Linked DNA regions of Homo sapiens: region 1 is linked to region 2. Evidence: fine-mapped expression QTL. A gene starts in region 2. The other region holds a variant in brackets. All regions are shown on one strand. Distances are between the middles of the regions.

Region 1 (9,481 bases), 71 kb before region 2:
GCACGTGGCCCTGATATTAAGATACAAGCATGCCAACAGCTTGCATTAGTATTTGTGGAATGGATGAGTGAGTCATGATATATTTCCCCAAGCTTCAGCTGGGTGTGTTTTTCATGTAACCATTACTCATAAAGTGTAAAGGTCAATTATGTTAGGAAGGAAGGAATGATTTTTGTCATCCATGCATAGGACACTCAGGTATGCTTCCCTGAGCTTCATGGAGCATGGTTCCCTGAGCTCACTCCTGCAAAGGCCACGCCTATTCATGAATGTTGACATTAACCAGAAGGTAGGGACTGTATATGTGAATTGAGCTTAAATCTGAGCTGAGGAATTCTATGACAAGTAACTTCAAACACGTCACTGAGTTTGAGTTTACCATAATGCATAAGACTATTTCTAAAACTTGTAATTGCTTCTGTTTATTTACAGAGTTTGATGCATATTTGAGCATTTATTTACTTATTCAAAATTCAAAAAGTTCCAAGAAGTATAAAAATGGCTGAACAGTGGCAAGAATTTTAGAAACCATAGAAAAAAACCCGACATTATTAGGGAACAAAACAAATAGACTAGGAGATAAAAATGAAGTTTTGTGTTGCAGAAGCTGGCAGGGATCCCCAGTGAGAGAAAAGAGGTATCAGGATGAGGAGAATGATAACCACAGCCTCATCACATAGGAGAGCGGCTGCTTCCGTCAACAGGGTGTGTGCTCACAGCTTCAGGTCTGCACCGCACAGCATGATGCTGAGACAGGAGGTCAGCACGTCACATAATTACAACTATATTCTTGTAGATGGCAGGATAATGGCATCCCCCCACCCTGCCCCCAAAAGATGTCCATGTCCTAATTTCAGGAACCTATGAATGTGTTATATGACATGGTAAAGAATTAAGTTTGTAGCTGGAATTAGGGTTGTCAATCAGTTGACCTTAAAATAGGGAAATCACCTGGGTTATGCAGGTGTACCATCACTAGGGCCCTTAAATGCGGAAGGAGGCAGAAGAGACAGGTGGGCGGGCGCGGTGACTCACACCTGTAATCCCAGCACTTTGGGAGGCTGAGGTGGAGGATTGTTTGAGTCCAGCAGTTTGAGACCAGCCTGGGCAAGATAGTAAGACTTTGACTCTACAAAAATAAAAAACTAACCAGGCATGGTGGTGCATGTCTGGGGTCCCAGCTACTCAGAAGGCCGAAGTAGGAGGATCACTTGGGCCCAGGGGGGTTGAGGTTGCAGTGAGCCATGCCACAATTTTGTCTGCACTGCAGCCTGTAGTGCAGAGCGAGACCCTGTCCCCATCCCCCACCAAAAAATAATAATAATAATAGACAGGTCGATGAGATGTGACAAAATATCAACCCTCTGTTAAGGCCACCAAAAATAAAAAATATTAAAAGGACACACAGCCCTGCCAACACCTTGATTTTAGCTCATGCCAGACTTCTGACCTTCAGAACTCTAAGATAATAAATTTGGTTTGTTTTAAGCACCACATTTGTGGTAATTTGCTACAGCAGCAATAGAAAACTGATACAATTATATTAATAATTTTAAAGACGGCATATTTTGCCAGGTAGAGTGAATCATCATTTTGAATGACTTTGAATCCAGAAGAAAATTTATGTAAGGAAAGGGCTTAATTGAAAACTAAAACATGAAAGTTCTTGGTGGCTGTGAAGGTTTTTCCTAGGACTGGAAATCCCCTGGGCTCCCCTCACACTTTGAAGTCAACCTAATTGGAGGGCCATGCCTCGATCCTTTCGGGAGATAGGTGTCCCTGTTAGAGTCTTCAGGTGTATGTTATACTTCAGGTGTCTGCAATTACCTTACCCAGGCCTATAAGCTCCTTGAGAACAGGGAACGTATTTGTCTAATTTTCAGGACCAAATGCAACATCCAGCCTCTAATTGGGGCTTAATAGGTATTTGTTGAATAAATATTTCCAGTGTCATTGATGCAATATTCTGACAAGTAGAAAGATCAAAGCTGGGAAGACGGGGGCTGGGGTGGAAGGAAAATAAATGACGTTTTGATTTTTTAAAGGAACAAAACTTTAGATAAGGCCAGTTTCAAATCATCTTGGCTTTGTTGTGTTTTCATCTCTCCAGAATTGGACTTCTGTGCTCAATTCAATGAAAACACTCAGAGCACAGATTGGGATCACGGACTTATTTTCAAAGCATGTTCCCACACATATTAACAATTGCTCAAAATTAACTGTAGCATCTGTTTAAAGTTGAATCAAATTGAATTCTCTATTTATAAAAATGGAGTTTACATAAGAGAATGGAAACCATGTACAGACATTTAGCATGACACTTCTGCTTACACCATTTCAACAAATAAAAAGAAATTATTGTTCTGGGAGAAATACACATTCCAAATCTTTGTAAAATGAAACCCTTCAAAATTAGGAAATGGAACAACTCTTTTTTTTTTTTTTTTTGAGACAGTCTTGCTTAGTCATGTTGCTCAGTGCAATGGCGCGATCTCGGCTCACTGCAACCTCTGCCTCCCGGGTTCAAGCGATTCTCCTGCCTCAGCCTCCTGAGTAGCTGGGATTACAGGCACCTGCCATCATGCCCAGCTAATTTTTGTATTTTTGTAGAGATGGGTTTCACCATGTTGGCCAGGCTCATCTTGACCTCAGGTGATCTGCCTGCCTCGGCTTCCCAAAGTGCTGGGATGACAGGCGTGAACCACCGCACCCCACCAGAAATGGAACAACTCTTAATGAGTGACATGAGCTACCAGATAAAGGAACACTATATAAATTTCAGGGTCCAGGGTCCTAGAAGTGCCTGGAGCTGAGCCCCTGCTCCCCAAGTCTGTACACATGCACCCTGGGTGCTCAAGCCACAGGCCCTGTTGTAATGGGAAGAGAGAATTCCCTCTTGCAGGAAAGCGGGCTACAAAGATGAAGGGTGGTGGGTGGCAAGAGAGGCCCGGACACACCCTGGGCCCAAGCCTCACTGGTAATGGTTGGAGGGTGGTGGGAAAAGCCATAGGAGATTCTGGGGGAGGTCACAGGGATGGGGGTGAGAGCGAGCTAAGTGGTAGCCAGTGGCGGGGCCCCTGGTGGTTGGGTTTTATTGGGAATGAGGCCGGGCAGGGAGTGACTATAAGACCCAGCTGGTCGTGGCAGAGGTGGGAAGGGAATTTAGGGAACTTGCTCTCTTGGCTTCATGTCTGGGGACACAGCACGGGTGAGGCTGGTGGGTGGGTTGACCTGCTGGTGGTCCCTTCAGACCCCTGTCCCAGTTAGTCCCTGGGGACCCGTCCCTTTGGACCTGACTCCTTGGGGTTGAGTTTCCCCTTTCACCTGGCCAGGATTTAGCATCTTCTTCTGGAGGAATGAGGAGGTTTGGGTGACCTGCCTCTTCCTCTTTCACCTGGCCAGGCTTTAGCATCTTCATCTGGAGGAACAAGGAGGTTTGGGTGACCTGCCTAGTGCCAGGGCAGGACGACTGCCACCCTGAGTCATGTTCTGCTGGTGTCTTTCAATTAGGCAGGAAAGCTCACTTCACAAGGAGCTTCTGTGTCACTGGAGTTATATGGAAATGAGGACATCAACGCAGCCCTCAGGGGCATGCGGGAAGAAGCAGAGGATGGGCCAGAGAGGGTCCTCCCTACCCTCCTCCCAGGTTTGGCCCTCTAGGCCACTCTACCCACTGCATACAGGGATGGGTGTGGTGCCCAGTTCCTCACCCTCTGGGACATAGAACTCCACCTACCCACAAAACCCACTTCCTCAGAAGCGTTAGGGCTGCCT[C/T]GGTGCCCTAACTGCAGGTGTGCAGGGCGGGGCTGAGGAAGAGGCAGTTAGGGCTGAACCCAGCAGGAGGGAAGCAAGCTCGCCCAGCTCTAGGTTTCTTGTGAACCCTCAGGACCTGCCTTTGGAGGCAGGTCCTGAGACTGCTGGAAGAAATGAAAATGATGACGATTACAAAGATGAAGGGAGAGAGTGTTAATGAATCACAGATCTTCCTTCCCCTATCAGGTCACCTTGTGTCAGTTTAACAATGACCACCCCCCCCCCAAAAAAAAAAAGCCACACACACACACACTGAGAAGGGAAACACTTTGTTTTTCTGCACTGTCTGAGCTCCATCAGATAATGGAACTGCTGAGCTCTCTGTTCTGCCACTCCACATTGATGGATTTCATGGCAGAGTAACACTTTGGAAATGAAAGTTTCTCTTCTACTTCCTAAGTGAGGGAGACCCAGAATCCAAGAAAGGATCCTTGGCTCAGGAAATCATCTGCCATCGGTGGCCAGGGGCAGCTGGAGCGTCAACATCTAACCTGTGGGAAGATGTACCCTCTGCAATAGGCCCCTCTGCCCCATCCCCAGAAGTCCCCAAAAGTTTCCAGGAGTGTCAACAGATGGGGGAGGGATCAGCCACTCTCACCCTCTGAACTGTGAGGGTTTCTCTTCCCATTTCTCTAGGAAGCAGTGGCCATGTTGTTGCCCAAAGCAGATGTCAAAAGAGAAACTTAGAAGAGGCTTCTGAGACTAGCAACCCTCCCACTCAGGATGGAACCAAATTCAGGGAGCACGTCTCCCCACACAGCTGAAATTAATGCAGAGGTGAACGCCTTCTCCCTCGGAAGCAGAGCAAGAATGATTCTTGATTACACTGAGCCTATGGAACAGCCCCCACTGTTCAAGAGCCAAGATTAGTGTGAAGCACCTCTCAATCATTTAAGATTTGATTGTTTAACATGAGGCTGGGTGGGTTCGTCTCAGTGCTGATGTCAACAATCGACCCCATCGTCCACATGGCTCCCTGGGTTGCACCATGAGCCAGCCACTGCTGCTTCTGGGTGCCAGGCTGTCCGGCAAATCCTCTGACCCCCGTCTCTCCCTTCTAGATTTTTCTGAGCTGCCACTTCCTCTCACCCTCCAGGCAGGCAGAGCCTGAAACCCCCTCTCTCAGAAAGGGTTGCATCAAACTCATTTGATGCACACAAATTCACCGAGGGAGAATCCTTTGACAAGCAGGCTCTGGGGCCCTGGGGCTGGGGCTTGAGAGCCTGGGTCTCTAACACACCCAGCAGTTGCTGATGGCGGGGCCAGAGCTGGAGTGGCCAAGGTTTTAGAGCAGTACTTATGGTGGGTCTCTCTCTAGCTGGGCCATCCTTGAGGCCATCCTCTTCATTTCAGATCAGTTTGCCCCCTCCCCATTTCTCAAAGCTGCTTACTGTTTGCTGGAAGGGAAGGCTGGACTCCTCCACCCCACCTTCCACCCCCACCTTCCTTTCCCCTCCGCCCCACACCCGTTTCTCTGCTCCCTAGTCTGTTTCCTGTACAACTTTAGGACATGGCCTTCATTCATGTTACCTTTCTGTTGTTGTTTTTTTATGAGCTTTAGTTAAGATAACTAATTGCTGCAGACAAAACCAGCTCAAAACAATTTAATCCACACTTTGAGAGAGGGAGAAAGAAATGCACTCTGCAGAGGAATCTGAAGAATGTAGAGAACCATCCAATCAACGACTATTCCAAGCATTTCCCTGAGAATGCAAACTTCCACCCACCTCAAGCCCTCCAGGAACTTGCCATTTTCACCACATCACTATGCAGCGTCACACCAGGAAGTACCCAGAAAACTTCGCACGATCCTCCGGAAGCCTCACCCCTTATCGGTGACCACCCTTCTGCTATATCCAGTCTTTTTCTCAGCATAAGTGTTTTACATACTTGATATCAGAGTGTAATTTAAAATCTATTTCTTGACTTTTTTACTTAATAAGTTTTTAACTGTCACTAAAAATTCCTGAAAAAATGTTGTATAACTCTTTCCGTTATTTACTTAATCATTTCCCTATTGTTGGAGACATAGAATCCAATTTAGGATTTGTTTTGTGGAAGGTTTCTTTGTTGCTGTTTTTTGAGACGGAGTCTCGCTCCGTCACCCAAGCTGGAGTGCAGTGGCGCAATCTCGGCTCACTGCAATCTCTGCCTCCCGGGTTCAAGCGATTCTCCTGCCTCAGCCTCCCAAGTAGCTGGGATTACAGGCGCCCACCACCACTCCCGGCTAATTTTTGTAATTTTAGTACAAACAGGGTTTCGCCATGTTGGCCAGGCTGGTCTTGAACTCCTGAACTCAGGTGATCCGCCCGCCTTGGCCTCCTAAAGTGCTGGGATTACAGGCGTGAGCACCGTGCCTGACCTGTTTTGTGGAACTTTTGAAAGCACAGAGAGGCATGCTCACATCTCATGGACACCACCCGAGTTAGATTAACTTCCTTTCAAACTGGAAGTAGAAGGAGACCATGTTTTCATTTGCCCACTCACTCACTCAGCAAATTTCACAGCATATTCCCCGTGTGCCAGGTATTCAGGGAAAGCCCGTTGTCCGTCTGAAGTCTATTAAGAGGTTAAATAGTCATCAGTCCACTTCAAGCTGGTCGATCGCCTTTGAGCATGGGAGGTAAGAGCTAACTTTGCAGTAAACCGCTCAACACAGAAACCAGCAAGGGCTTCCACATGCAGCCCCGTTCCTGGAGCAACAAATCACAACATCCGTCACTGTAGACTCTGGCCTGACACAGATGGTCCCCACATTCTTGAAGGCAAGGACTAAGAAAGAGTGGGTCAGGGTCCGTTTGGAAATTATTTTCAGGAAGCTGGCCCTCTGAGGCCAAATGGTGGGAGGTGGAGGGGACTAGACTTGGGCGGGAAGAAACATCCTCATCCATCCTCATCCTTATGGAAACCTGTGTCCCAGTTCCCTGTCTGCATCTTCAGGTGCCTCTGGTACAAGTCTATGTGGATGCCTGCCTCAAACTCATCACACAGAAATGCAGCACTCTCGCCCGCTGCACTGTGGCCCCTTCCAAATGTAGCCCCCTTGGAGAGACACGTATCGCCCACTAAGTGGATCCACTGCAGCCTCCACACTATCTGGGTTCCTCTCTCCCTTTCTCCTCCAAGTCAGCAGGTGACAGGCTCGCTTTGCTTGTGCCTTCCAAAGAACAGAGACTCTAGCATGTCTGCCCTTCGATGGGCCGGCTTGGCCTGGCTGTCTCCTGCTTCCTCAATGGTTTCCTGGGAATACCTGCTGGTAGGTGGGGGATGGCCTAATCCCTGCCAGAGACTCCTTGGCCTTTGATCCTGGTGAGCTGTGCTAGTCCACGTGCAAACACAAAGCCTCTGTTCTCTTTTGGAGGCCTTTTGCATAGTCTGACAGCTGAGCTGGAGATCCAGGCAGGCCTGCACTTAGCTGTGCTCTTGCCTCCAAGGACTGTTCCAACGTGGGGCCATGATTCAGCCTCTTTGAGCCTCAGATTCTTCTCTGTACACTGGAGATAAGGATGCCCACCTCACAGGGCTGTTTCAGCGATCAGATCTGTAAAGCACTTAGCGTTATGTGTAGGAAGAACTCAATACATAATATTAATGCTGAGTATAATTACTGTTATTCCTCAGTAGGCTTCCAGGCCTGCCTGCCCTGAGTCCTCTTGGTCTTCCCTGTTTTATCTCCCCAGCTACAGGAGAGAAGTGACTTGCTCTCCATCCCTCCGTCAATGAAGGGGCTAGGCCATGCACTGTGCTTTGGTGCCCACTGTTCTACTTGGTTTACATCAGAGAAGGAAGGATAATATTAGAAATTATATAGATAGGCCGGGCACGATGGCTCACACCTATAATCCCAGCACTTTGGGAGGCCGAGGCGGGCGGATCACCTGAGGTGAGGAGTTCGAGACTAGCCTGATCAACATGGTGAAACCCCATCTCTACAAAAAATACGAAATTAGCTGGGTGTGGTGGCACATGCCTGTAATCCCAGCTACTCAGGAGGCTGAGGCAGGAGAATTGCTGGAACCTGGGAGGTGGAGGCTGCAGTGAGCTGAGTTCATGCCATTGCACTCCAGCCTGGGCAATAGAGTGAGACACTGCCTCAAACAAACAAACAAAAAAAAAGTATATACATGTGGCATAGTAACCTCATTATGAAAACCATAATCTTGGTCATAATCATGCATGAATGTTAGAAAAATATCCAGTAAAATCCCACATTAATCTTTTTTCACTCTGACCATCAGAATTTTCTTGGAAGTTTTCATCACTATTAAGCAGACTCCAAAAATTAAAGTTAATAATGATCTGGATTAAAGATGCAAAATAATTATTGCTTGCATATATGTTGTAGGGGCCAAAGCGAAACCTTTGGCCCTCTGAAGTTTCACTGAAAAATCAACTCGCAAAAGACAGATTAAGGCCGGGCACTGTGGCTCAAACCTGTGATTCTAGCACTTTGAGAGGTTGGGGTGGGCAGATCAGTTGAGGTAAGGAATTCAAGACCAGCTTGGCCAACATGGCAAAACCCTGTCTCTACTAAAAATACAAAAATTAGCTGGACGTGGTGGTGTGTGCCTGTAATCTCAGCTACTCAGGAGGCTGAGGCATGAGAATCCCTTGAACCAGAGAGACAGATTCAGAGGTTGCAGTGAGCCGAGAGCAGGCCAGCGCACTCCAGCCTGGGCGACACAGCAAGACTCTGTCTGAAAAAAAAGGCAGATTAATAGGAGAAAAGGCATACAAAGTTATTCAACGTGTGTATACACAGGAGCCCTCAGAATAAAGAGCCCACCCCCAACAAAGTACAGAAGCTTAAATATACCATCTTGAGGTTACAGAATGAATGGAGGCTCAGAGCATGGCCAAAAAACAATTATGGTAGTCAATCATGTTCTATTGGCAAGACAGATGATGGGAGGAGGAGAAGAGGAGGACTGGCTGACAAAGGTGGTCTTGTTATGTAGATGAAACCTCACAGGTAGCAGCTCTCAGAGAGAATAGATGATGAATGTTTCTTTCAGATCTTTCACGGTGTCAGAATCTCCCAAATTAATCTCTCCTACATGAGGACTAGGGCAGGACTGGTTGCATTTCTGGGGATTCACTAAAGATCTCCAGATGCAAATTTTCCCCACAAAAGACCACTTTGTAGAGCCACTTCAGTCTGCCAGCCCTGTGGCAGCCATCTCGAAATATGTCAGAGCAATATATTTGGGGGTAAAATATTCTGATTTCCTTTAATGTGTAATAATATACCCAGAAAACTTCAGAGAATCCACTGAAAGTCTTATAGAATTAAGAAGAGGCAATCAATACAATACAAACATGGGAAACAACAGCTTTGCATCAGATCAGCATAGAACGGATGTGGGAGAGGAATACTGTTCTCAATAGCACCAATGTACAGAAGCTGAGAATAACATCAGTAAGATGCACATTGGAAAAAAGAAAAACTAGGAATTATAATGAGACATAAAGAATAAAACTTGAATAAATGGAGTAATGTATCGCATTTCTGATGATGCAACAAAATAAATTTTTCTCAAGTTACTTTATGAGTAACAAAATCCAAATAAAATCTCAAACCAACACTTCATCTTGATAAAATCATTCTATTATAAGCTTGACAAATAAATGACGGCTCAAGAAACAACAGATGCTGGTGAGGCTGTGG
Region 2 (9,481 bases):
AAACATTACAGAAATCAACTGAGACTCTTAACTAGTAGTTGATACACCACAGGGCTTTACTTTACTGCACAATTACTAACAGTTGATTGCACCCTTAAGTATTGATTATGCAAAAAACAAAATCATCTCGCATCAGTTTTAAAGCATGACAGGGTTTGAACAGTGATCTTGAACCTAAGTATTGTTATCATGAGAAGGTTACAGTATTTGGCATCTGCAATGTCACAAAATAAATATATTATTCTCTCAATAGTGTGGAACTACCAAAATGTCAAAGTGCTTAAGAAATTGTCGCATGTGAAGAAAATAAAGAAAGATGGATTTTTTTTTTAATAATTCTATACAGAATCTTCAGATGATGGGACCAGCCCATTTAGAAATCAGTGGATATGCTGTCGATATGTAAACTGAAATCTTGCAGGCTTTTCAACACTGCTTAGCTAGACTTTCTCTACTGAGTTTCTACAAAAAGACCAGCATTGGAGGGGTACCAAATACACCGACAAAAGAGAAAAAGCAGATGGGCTGCTAGGTTTCTGCTTTTAAAAAATTTCATATAAGAATTGGGTTTCAAGCAGGAAGCCAGAACTTCTGCCTCTGGTTCTTAAATTAACATTCGGTGTGTAATGGACAATAGGCAGGGACTCATAATTTGACTAACTCACATGCTCAAGCATGATCGTGTCCAATTTCTACAGGCCTCCTTTGTAAAGAAATGTGTAACAATGGGGGGAAAGTCATAATTCTACCTGAAAACATGGATTGTAAGAGGAAATAAAAAAATCAAACAGTATGTTTTAAGTTTCCCTTTTGATACTGTGTTTCAGGGTAAGTGACAGCTTCTGCAAACCAAGACTCAGTCCTGATTATAAAGGATTTTTAAAATTACATTATTAAAAATATGTATTTATTCTTCTTTCACTTTATCTATTTTCCAAAGCCTCTTTCAAGTAAACTGTGAAGTGCCTGAGTACCAGTGACCATGACGTCACACTTTCTTTTATCTCAAGCACTCATTGTTGTTTGCATTTGCCCAAAGTGCTGGCTGGCTCCGAAGGCCAGTTCCCACAAGAATGAATTCGGAAAGACTTCATCCTTGTGTTTTTCCTTCTCTTTTAATTCCATGCAACGAGGTCAGCTTTTGCAACAAGGTGGGGTTTTATTTTTTTGGTGCATGACATCAAATACTCTAACGAGACATTTTTAATGAAAGACTTAAACCAGATAGGCCACAATGAACCAAATTAGAAATCTGAACATGTCACCACTTGCAGCATAAAGGAATATAAAAGGGCAGAGCAAAGTCTTTTTTCCTAAGGTGAATATTTCTAAGGTAAGTATTCATTTGTAAAAGTTTTTTTTTTTCATCATGTCTGAAAACCCATTATCACGCGGTTAGTATTACAAGAGACATCCCTTGGTTAAAAAAAAAAATACCATCTTGCAATTCAGCACACACCTGCAGCTGGTGTGCTCATCCAAACCAATCAGTAGGCTAAGAGAATTTAAAATTCCATACATATGAGTCTAGGTATTAATGCCGATTACACAGTACACAGTACAGAGGGAGGTCCCTATATCCACACACACACACACCCCATCCAGCATTTACACCAAAAGCCTTACCCTTTAAACACCTTTAACTATCCTGCAAACAGTAAATGCATCATTGGCCACCACCTCCAATAGTTCGTCTTTTTTTTTTTTTATTTTTTTTATTTTTATTGGTCTCTTTGTGTGATAATGACCTACACATGGACAGGGTCCAAACCATCTGGAAGATGTCTGATTCCAGGCTGAAAAGCAGTTCTCAACAAAACTGGTCTTCTGCAGCCACCACAAAGCACCAGGAAAAGGGCACCTCCGCGGCCATCCCCAGCCAGGCCAGCACAGCGCTCCGTGCCCGCTGAACCGTCCCAGGCAGTCCTCTGATGACCCAAACCACCACCACCTTTGGGCCCAGAGCAGGACAAATGAAATTTCAACAGGGGCCTGCCCTGTGACCGAAAATTACTCAGCTTCACAGCCCCTGAATGCAAGGAGAGGTGGTCCCCCCAGAACCAACATGCCCCCCAAGGTGGGTACGCCCACGGTTCTGGGAAATGCATACCTCAGGTAATTCACAGGTGCGATCCCCCAGTGGAGGCGGGGCAGCCTGAACTTCTGGCCCTGCAGGAGTGGGAAGAAATCGCTTTTGTCTTTCCGACAACTGAGCCTTCCACCTGGGGCTGGGAGGGCGGACAGCAGGACCGGCTCTTCCACTCCCCACCGCGGCCCCCCGACCTGGTCAGTAGCTCTGGCGTTCAGACAAAAGGTCCCCTGAGCTGGGGGTGGGGGGCAGGTCGAGAGTAGGCCGGTAAATCAGACTTCGCAGCTCCTTAAGTCACCAGTCCTGCATTTGGGTGCAGAGATTCCGTTTTAAAAATTCGAAGCATCGCTTTGGTTCGCTCTTTGTTCGCGGGCGCGGGTTCTCGCTCATCCATCCATCCATCCATCCAACCATCCATCCATCCATTCATTCTTTCTTGACGCACTCGCTCGCTCCCCGGTCGCTCCGGGCGCATTACCGCTTCTTCTTCTGCTTGAGGGACTTCCTGCGTTTCAGGATCATCTCATAGAGCTTGTCCATGCCCTCGGTGAGGCCCTCGCCGATGATGGCGCACGCCGGCTGGACGTGATAGGTGGTGGCCGGGATAAGCTCGTGCAGCGCCAGCTGCTTCTCAATCTCTGCCACCGGCAGCGACTTGGGCAGGTCCTGCTTGTTGGCGATGACCAGCAGCGGCGTGCCCTGGTTCTCGGCGAACTTGGTCACCTTGTGCAGCTCCGTCTTGGCCTCCTCCAGCCGGTCCACGTCCACCGAGTCCACCACGTAGATGATGCCGTCCGTGCAGCGGCTGTAGGACTTCCACAGCGGCCGCAGCTTCTCCTGGCCGCCCACGTCCCAGAAGTGGCAGCTGATGCCCTTGGCCGTGCCGTTGCTCAGCTTGATCTTCTCGGTGTTGAAGCCGATGGTGGGCACCGTGTTCACGAACTCGTTGAACTTGAGCCGGTAGAGCACCGTGGTCTTGCCGGCCGAGTCCAAGCCCAACATGACGATATGCAGGGACTGGAAGGCCGAGATGTTAGAGGAGATGTTGCCCATGGCTCCTGGCTGCGGCGCCAGCCACTGCGGCTGCGGCGGGAGGGCGCCGCCCCCCGAGCAGTCACGGGCCCGACGCGGCCGGGCGCACCTGGGCCCCGCCCGCCGCCGCCCGCACCGGCCCCGGGGCTCGGCGTCCCCGCGGGCGCACGGCTTGGCGCGCTCAGACGCCGCAGTCCCCGCGCCCTCGCCGGCCGGGCTCGCGATCGGCGGGCATCGCGTCTCTACGCGCGGCTTTGTCTCCCGCGAAGCCGCCTCAGATGTTCGGCGCCCTCCCCAGGCCTGGGCTCGCTCTGTGGTTTCCTCGGGCCGCGCCCCCGCGCTCCGGCAGCTGCCCGGGCTCTCCGCTCTCCCGGCGCCCGGCGCTCGCCTCTGGCCTGGGACGGCGCTGCTCCTGCTCCTGCTCCCGCTCCCGCTCCCGGAGCGCGGGCTTCCCCGGGAGTCGCTGTCCGCTCGGCAGCCTCACAGTCCCCGCGCCGCCGCAGCAGCCGCCAGCCTGCAGCGGCCGGAGAGCTCCCGGACCCGCCCCCTCGCGCCCCGCCCCGGACCCGCCCCCGGACCCGCCCCGGGCCCCGCCCCGCCCGCCGCCGGGGGTCAGGCGCGGTCCTCCCCGCCCAGCCGGCCGTTTTCGCGCGCTTCGCTGCGTCCCCGCCGCCCCCCGCCGCCCCCCGGCCCCTCCCGCGCCGCGCCGCGCAGACACAATGGGCGCGGAGCCGGCTCTTCCTCCCCAGCGGCTGACGCGTTTGCAAAAATAGCTCTCGGCTCCCGGAATCCCCGCCCGGGTCCTAGCCCGCCCCCTGCCCCTCCGGGCCGCAGCCGTGGGCGACGCAGCCTGCCTGAGGGAGTGGGTCCCGGGGTCCCAGCTCTGTGGGCGCGAGGCGGGGCAGGGCGGCCCCCAGGGTGACTGGGAGAGCGCCGCTCTGGGGAGTGAGGGCGGCGAGGCTGGGGCCTCCAAACCCCAGAAGGGACGGGACGGGGCTGGCCTCGGTGAGCTGCCAGCCTGCGCTCTGGATCCAGCCGGGCGCGTCCCCTCCCACCCTCGCGCCGCGGCTGTCGCCGGCCCCGGCCCCCAGTGACGCCCAGGCTCGCCTCCTGCCTGGGTTCCAGGGGGCTGCACCCGGCCAGCGCCGCCCTCCGGAGCCCAGGCCTGTGCCCAGGGCACCCTGGAGGCCCAGCCTTTCTTGCCCGGTGGCGGCGGTTGGGGCAGGGTCGGACCTAGGCCGCGATGGGGGATTAGAAGACCTACCTGCCCCAAGTAGCTCGGACAGCTCACCCTCCCAGACACGCCTGGGCTACCTCATTTCGTCCGCATCGACTCTGCTGACATCCCAGGGGAAGCGTCAGCATTTCGGGAGAGCACCCCTTGCCACCCGACTTTGGGAACTGAGAACCACCTGCCCGCAGGTGAACTACTCCGCAGAAATGGCAACACCAGCCCCGGGGGCTGAAAGAAAATGTGTCTACAGCTTGGAGCTGGTGGCGCAGTGGGTTACAAACACTGATATTCCACGGGTTCCACCTCCTGTCACCTCAGTTCAATGGTTTTATTCTGGTTTGTAAACATGTAACAAATGTATATCCTCTCTGGGTGCGGAGAAAAGTGAGAGTATATTATGGCAAACACACAGATCTGGGGAGAGCTGCTCCGCAGGAGACAGCAGGCCGCAGCATGGGCGACCGCATCTTCCCAGCTCTAGCTTATGAGACAGAAACGACGGAAACGGGGTCAAGGGAGAAGAAAATGAAAATGCTAAGAATTTATGAATAAAAGCTAGAATTTTAGAGAAATACTTTATCACCTTCTGTTCACAAACCACGAAAAGACATATGATATCGTTGGTACCAAAGCATGTGAGAAGACCTCACCTGTAGAAGGAAGGACAAGCCACCACCACCCCTATCCTTGGAATTCCCAAGGTGGCAGCCGGAGCGACCATCCACTCTACTGAGTGGATTTGGGGCTGGAAACGAAGTATCAGGCTGGAAAGGACCCTGCCTATCATTCCACCCAACGTTGTCCAGTGAGGTAACAAGGCCTAGGCGCCCGTGACGGCTAAGGCAGAACCTAGAGGCCCACTGCCTGCTCCAGGACCAAGGGTCTGTATGCACAAAACTGGGCACCTGCCTGCCCTCTTCCTCACATCCCACTCTACCCACACGCTATTTCCTTCAATGAGGAATAAAGTGAGCCACCCGAAGGATAGAGTTCAACAGAAAATATTGGCTGCACTGTGCCACTTACTTCATTTTAAATAAAAATGGAAATGTATTCACTGACATCACTGAAAAGTTAAGGATAAAGGTCCTCTTCAGGCATGGCTAGACCCAGGAGCTCAAAAGGAGTCTTTCGAGCAGGTGTCTCTCCAGTCCTCCTCCGTGTTCCCCTGTGTTGATTCTTTTTCCTTCTGGCAGCCTTGGACTCACATCCTTGGTTTAGATCCTGGAAAGGAAAAGGTACAACTCTTTCCCAGTAACTCTAACCAAAGCCTGGAGCACGCACCCTGGATCAAGGACTGCAGTCCAGGAGGAGGGAACACACCAGTGGATGTGGCCCAGGGGTTGAAATCGGGAAGGGTGGTTCTCCAAGAAGAATCCAGGATCTGTCACCAAAAGAGCAACTCTAGTGAGGCAACAGAAACAACATATGTTGGCATAATTCATAATGATGATGTTTCCGTTATTGGGAACCCTGGGGAGACAGGATTTTGTGTTTTTGGAGTGATTTTCTTGACTCTCTTTAATGCCTGCCCCATAGATAGCCAGCTTCTCATGAGACTGTTTCTTGTTTCTCTTTCTTCTCTGCCACAGGCAGGGCCGAGGCTGAGCCCCAACCCAAGATGAGCCTTTGGTTTAGTAGCCTGGGACCTGGACATTTGGAAAGAGACAGATCAGACTGGAAGCCTCTCCATCCGGCTTCCACAGATTACCTTTGTGTTACTTCCTTTTCCCCTAGTCAAGACTTGCTTTAAGTTTTAAGGTGGTAGGAAGGAGATATTTTAGTAAAGTATCCGATGTATCTTTTTGGTGCTATGCTAATTATTACCAAGAGCCTCAGTGGTTTTGACTGCAGCCTCCACATTTTGCACCACCATGATGGGGTTTAGCAATAAAGGGCTGTCTGCTGTCCAGTAGGAAAAAACAGATTAATAGACATTAATAGAGCCTTCCAGAACACAGCCATTAAACAGCAACTCACCATAATTGAATAGCAACCACTCTACCTGCTAATTTCACTCACCAGGTGATAAGTTAATTTTACAGTTGATAATTTAACTTCTAACACATAAAAATATCATTTGGTTGAGTCGACTGGTAACTTTCCTTCAAATGTGGATTTTTATTGAAAAACACTGGAATTATGAAAAGGAAGGTAATGTTTACCACTCATATCAGACATGTAAGGCCTACTTTGAGCCTATTTCTTCATGGACATACATCATGGCTAAATTCCACTGAGTGGAAAATATTGGCTGCACTGTGGCACTTACTTCATTTTAATTAATCAGAAGGAGAGATTTTTTCAAAGAATAGCATGTACTTGTGTCTGCCTGAGATGAATTCCTCTTCCAGCAGCAGTGACATTTCAGGTCCTCTCCTTTCTATTCTTCATCAAGATGACTGCATCCAGAGAAGAACTCAATTATTTCAAGCAAACAGAAGGCAATAACTTGGCAGTAATTTTGAAATTGCATCCTAAAATATTCTCTTTTTTTTCCCTTTAAGGGCTTTGAAATAAAATGTGCCACCAATTAAAATGACTTTTGAGTGAATCCGATGAGCAATATATCATGGCATTATTATCTTTGCTTGAGTAAGGCTAATAACCTAAAATGCAAAAGGGAGCATCCCATTTATTCTTGAATATGATGAGTAAATAAAGACCAGAACATGGGCACACGTGTACACACATACACACACGCGCGTGCGCGCATAAGTGTGGGGTTATTTGCATGTTCTCACTGCAGACCTGCTGTGGAACTCTGGGTTCAGGTTCACTGCCCCGGTGCTTAACTGTTATAATACAGGAGTGCCCTCTGCTGAGCTTCTCGGATAATAGATGAAGGGCTCTACAGAGGCACATTGGCCTAGTGCTTAGCAAATGTTCAGTCCATAGTTATGGAATGAATGATGGATAAGTGACCCCCTGCTTTTCTTCTCTCTATGGAGATGCAGGAATAGAGCCCTACTGGTTAAACTGAGAAAGTGCCAGGGGCCCATGGGTGCTTTGCTTGGGGCTCAGAGCTCAGAGCCATTGATGCCAGTGTGGGTCTTGTCTGTGAGACCTGTGGGTTATCTGCTGGGAGAGGGGAGCCAGGAACCTGGCAGAGCAGGAAGTCGCTTTACTAGGAGAACTGTTCAAAGAATCACAATTGGTGGAAGAGATCAGAAAAGAGCATCCAGGAAACCCAGCTGAGACCAGAGAAGGGAAGAAAACTGATTTTTGCATCTAATTCGCAGGCAGGCATGAGCAGCTGTAAATGGAGAATGGGGCTGGGAGTCGAGAATGAAGGAGGCCAGTTGGCAGACAAAGTGACAAGGCCTGAAGCTCCTGAAGCCAGGTGGTCCAGGATTGAAGCCTTTTATCTGTCAGGAGAGGTTCCTTAAGGAAGAACCAAACCAATACTTCCAGAAGCCCCAGGGCATGCTAGACAAACCAGTCACCATCACTGCAGTGCAACCCCCTCAACTCCAGGAGAAACGCCGACTCAGGCTACGTAACAGTGGAAGCCACTAAGACACTGGTGCCAAGGGAAGTTTTGTGGATGGGACGGTAGATCTGGGGGGAGATAAATGAAAATCTGTGATGCCTGCAAGCTCCTGCTTCATTCAAGTGGTCCAAAGCCTGAAAATAAAAAAGATCCACTACTCTATTGGCCATTCAAGTTTATAATTCTAAGGAAAAAAAAATCAGGGTGCCTTATTTTTTATTTTGCTAAGCAACAGGGCTGAAACAATTCAGGTTTTTATTTTCCCAATGATCACCACTGCTAGTGTTTTGTATGGTTGTTGTTGTTGCTGTTTTCTCCAAGAAAAAAAATTTAAATCAAAAAGCTAAAAGGCTCCCCCGCTTCAAGTCTTCCTTAATAATTGTCGATCTCTATTACATTCCTGAGATAGATATAAAATTTTAGAAGCCATTATCTGGGCTGGGCATGGTGGCTCACATCTGTAATCTCAGCACTTTGGAAGGCTAAGGTGGGAGGGTCATCTGAGGTCAGGAGTTTGAGACCAGCCTGACCAACATGGTGAAACCCCATCTGTACTAAAAATATAAAAATTAGCCGAGTATGGTGACAGGCATCTGTCATCCTAGCTATTCTTGAGGCTGAGGCAGGAGAATGGCTTGAACCTGGGAGGCAGAGGTTGCAGTGAGCCAAGATCGCGCCACTGCACTCCAGCCTGGGCAACAAAAGCGAAACTCCATCTCAAAAAATAATAATAATAAATAGAAGCCATTATCTTTCCTATCAGTAATATTTTCAAATATAATTCTTATATAACACTATTTTACATCTCTCCCTAATATTTACATGGCATGTATTAAATGAACCTTTGTCAAGGATGTTAAGACTCAAAGCTTTGGAAGTCAGCACTCAGGCATACCAAAGTGACAGAAAAGTTCTTAGTGCCAGCTTCCAGTTCAGGGGGAAGAAAAGGCTTAGTATGCAAAAGGTATTTCTGAATCCTTTAATAATTCAATCACAGTAATTAAATTTCTACTCTAATAGCTACAGTGAAGGAAAAAAAAAACAAGTTAACAATAAATATCAGGTGATTAGAGAGCTGCACCATGAACCAAGAAGTATTTGATGGAAACTTGGATTACTTTCATTCCTCTTCTCCCACCTCTGCAGGTGAACTGAAATGCTATTATTTTCATTTAATTAAGCTTACTTGGCTGGACCCCAGAGAGATGAAAACAATCACGCTTTTGTGCCCCTGTCAAACCCTATTGGCTTTCTACAGTGCAGCAGGGAGGATGGGGTGTGTTGCCAGTGCCACCCTCTCTAATGTGTGGTCACTCAGGATGACTCTTCCCTTTAATACAACAGTTGGCTTTTGTAGAACCATCCTCTGTGTGGATACAGCACAGCATCTGAACAGAGCTCCTTGGCCCGTTGCTGCTTCTGTTGGAGTGATAGCCACTTGAGATGATCATTTCTTCCTTATGAGTCACACAGTGCTCATGTAACCTGATGCTTTGCTCCATCAATCACAGAAAATCCCTTTTACTCTCTTGCTTCTGCCTCTCCCAGTCTCCTGCAGCTGCTCTCCTAAGGTCATTGATGACCTATGGAAAAATCCAAAGGGCTGATCTGTGCGGATGGCTGTTTGGGATGG

Alleles and levels. Alleles are on the strand shown, and positions count from the first base shown. SD is a standard deviation of normalised expression in the study named.
For the expression in monocytes of the gene that starts at base 3,637 in region 2, T is the high allele of the variant in region 1 and C is the other (moderate effect, 0.51 SD a copy in BLUEPRINT).

Evidence for each region.
Region 1: its variant is fine-mapped to the expression of ARL4C in monocytes (TOPMed, PIP above 0.99). The same link has a PIP of 0.9 or more in monocytes after interferon gamma.

Annotation. Positions count from the first base shown.
Region 1 is chr2:234,422,346-234,431,826 of GRCh38, forward strand. No RefSeq gene overlaps it. Among named protein-coding and RNA genes, the nearest start is that of LINC01891, 28 kb to the right of the region's middle. RefSeq lists enhancers at 5,112-6,311, 5,961-6,532, 8,504-9,055. The variant C/T (reference allele first, on the strand shown) is at 3,775.
Region 2 is chr2:234,493,445-234,502,925 of GRCh38, forward strand. ARL4C (ARF like GTPase 4C) reads right to left here and starts at 3,637. Exons shown (of 2, transcript NM_001282431.2): 1 at 2,568-3,637; 2 at 1-2,392. The coding sequence starts at 3,142. The coding sequence ends at 2,362. RefSeq lists silencers at 3,215-3,314, 3,425-3,714 and an enhancer at 3,899-4,672.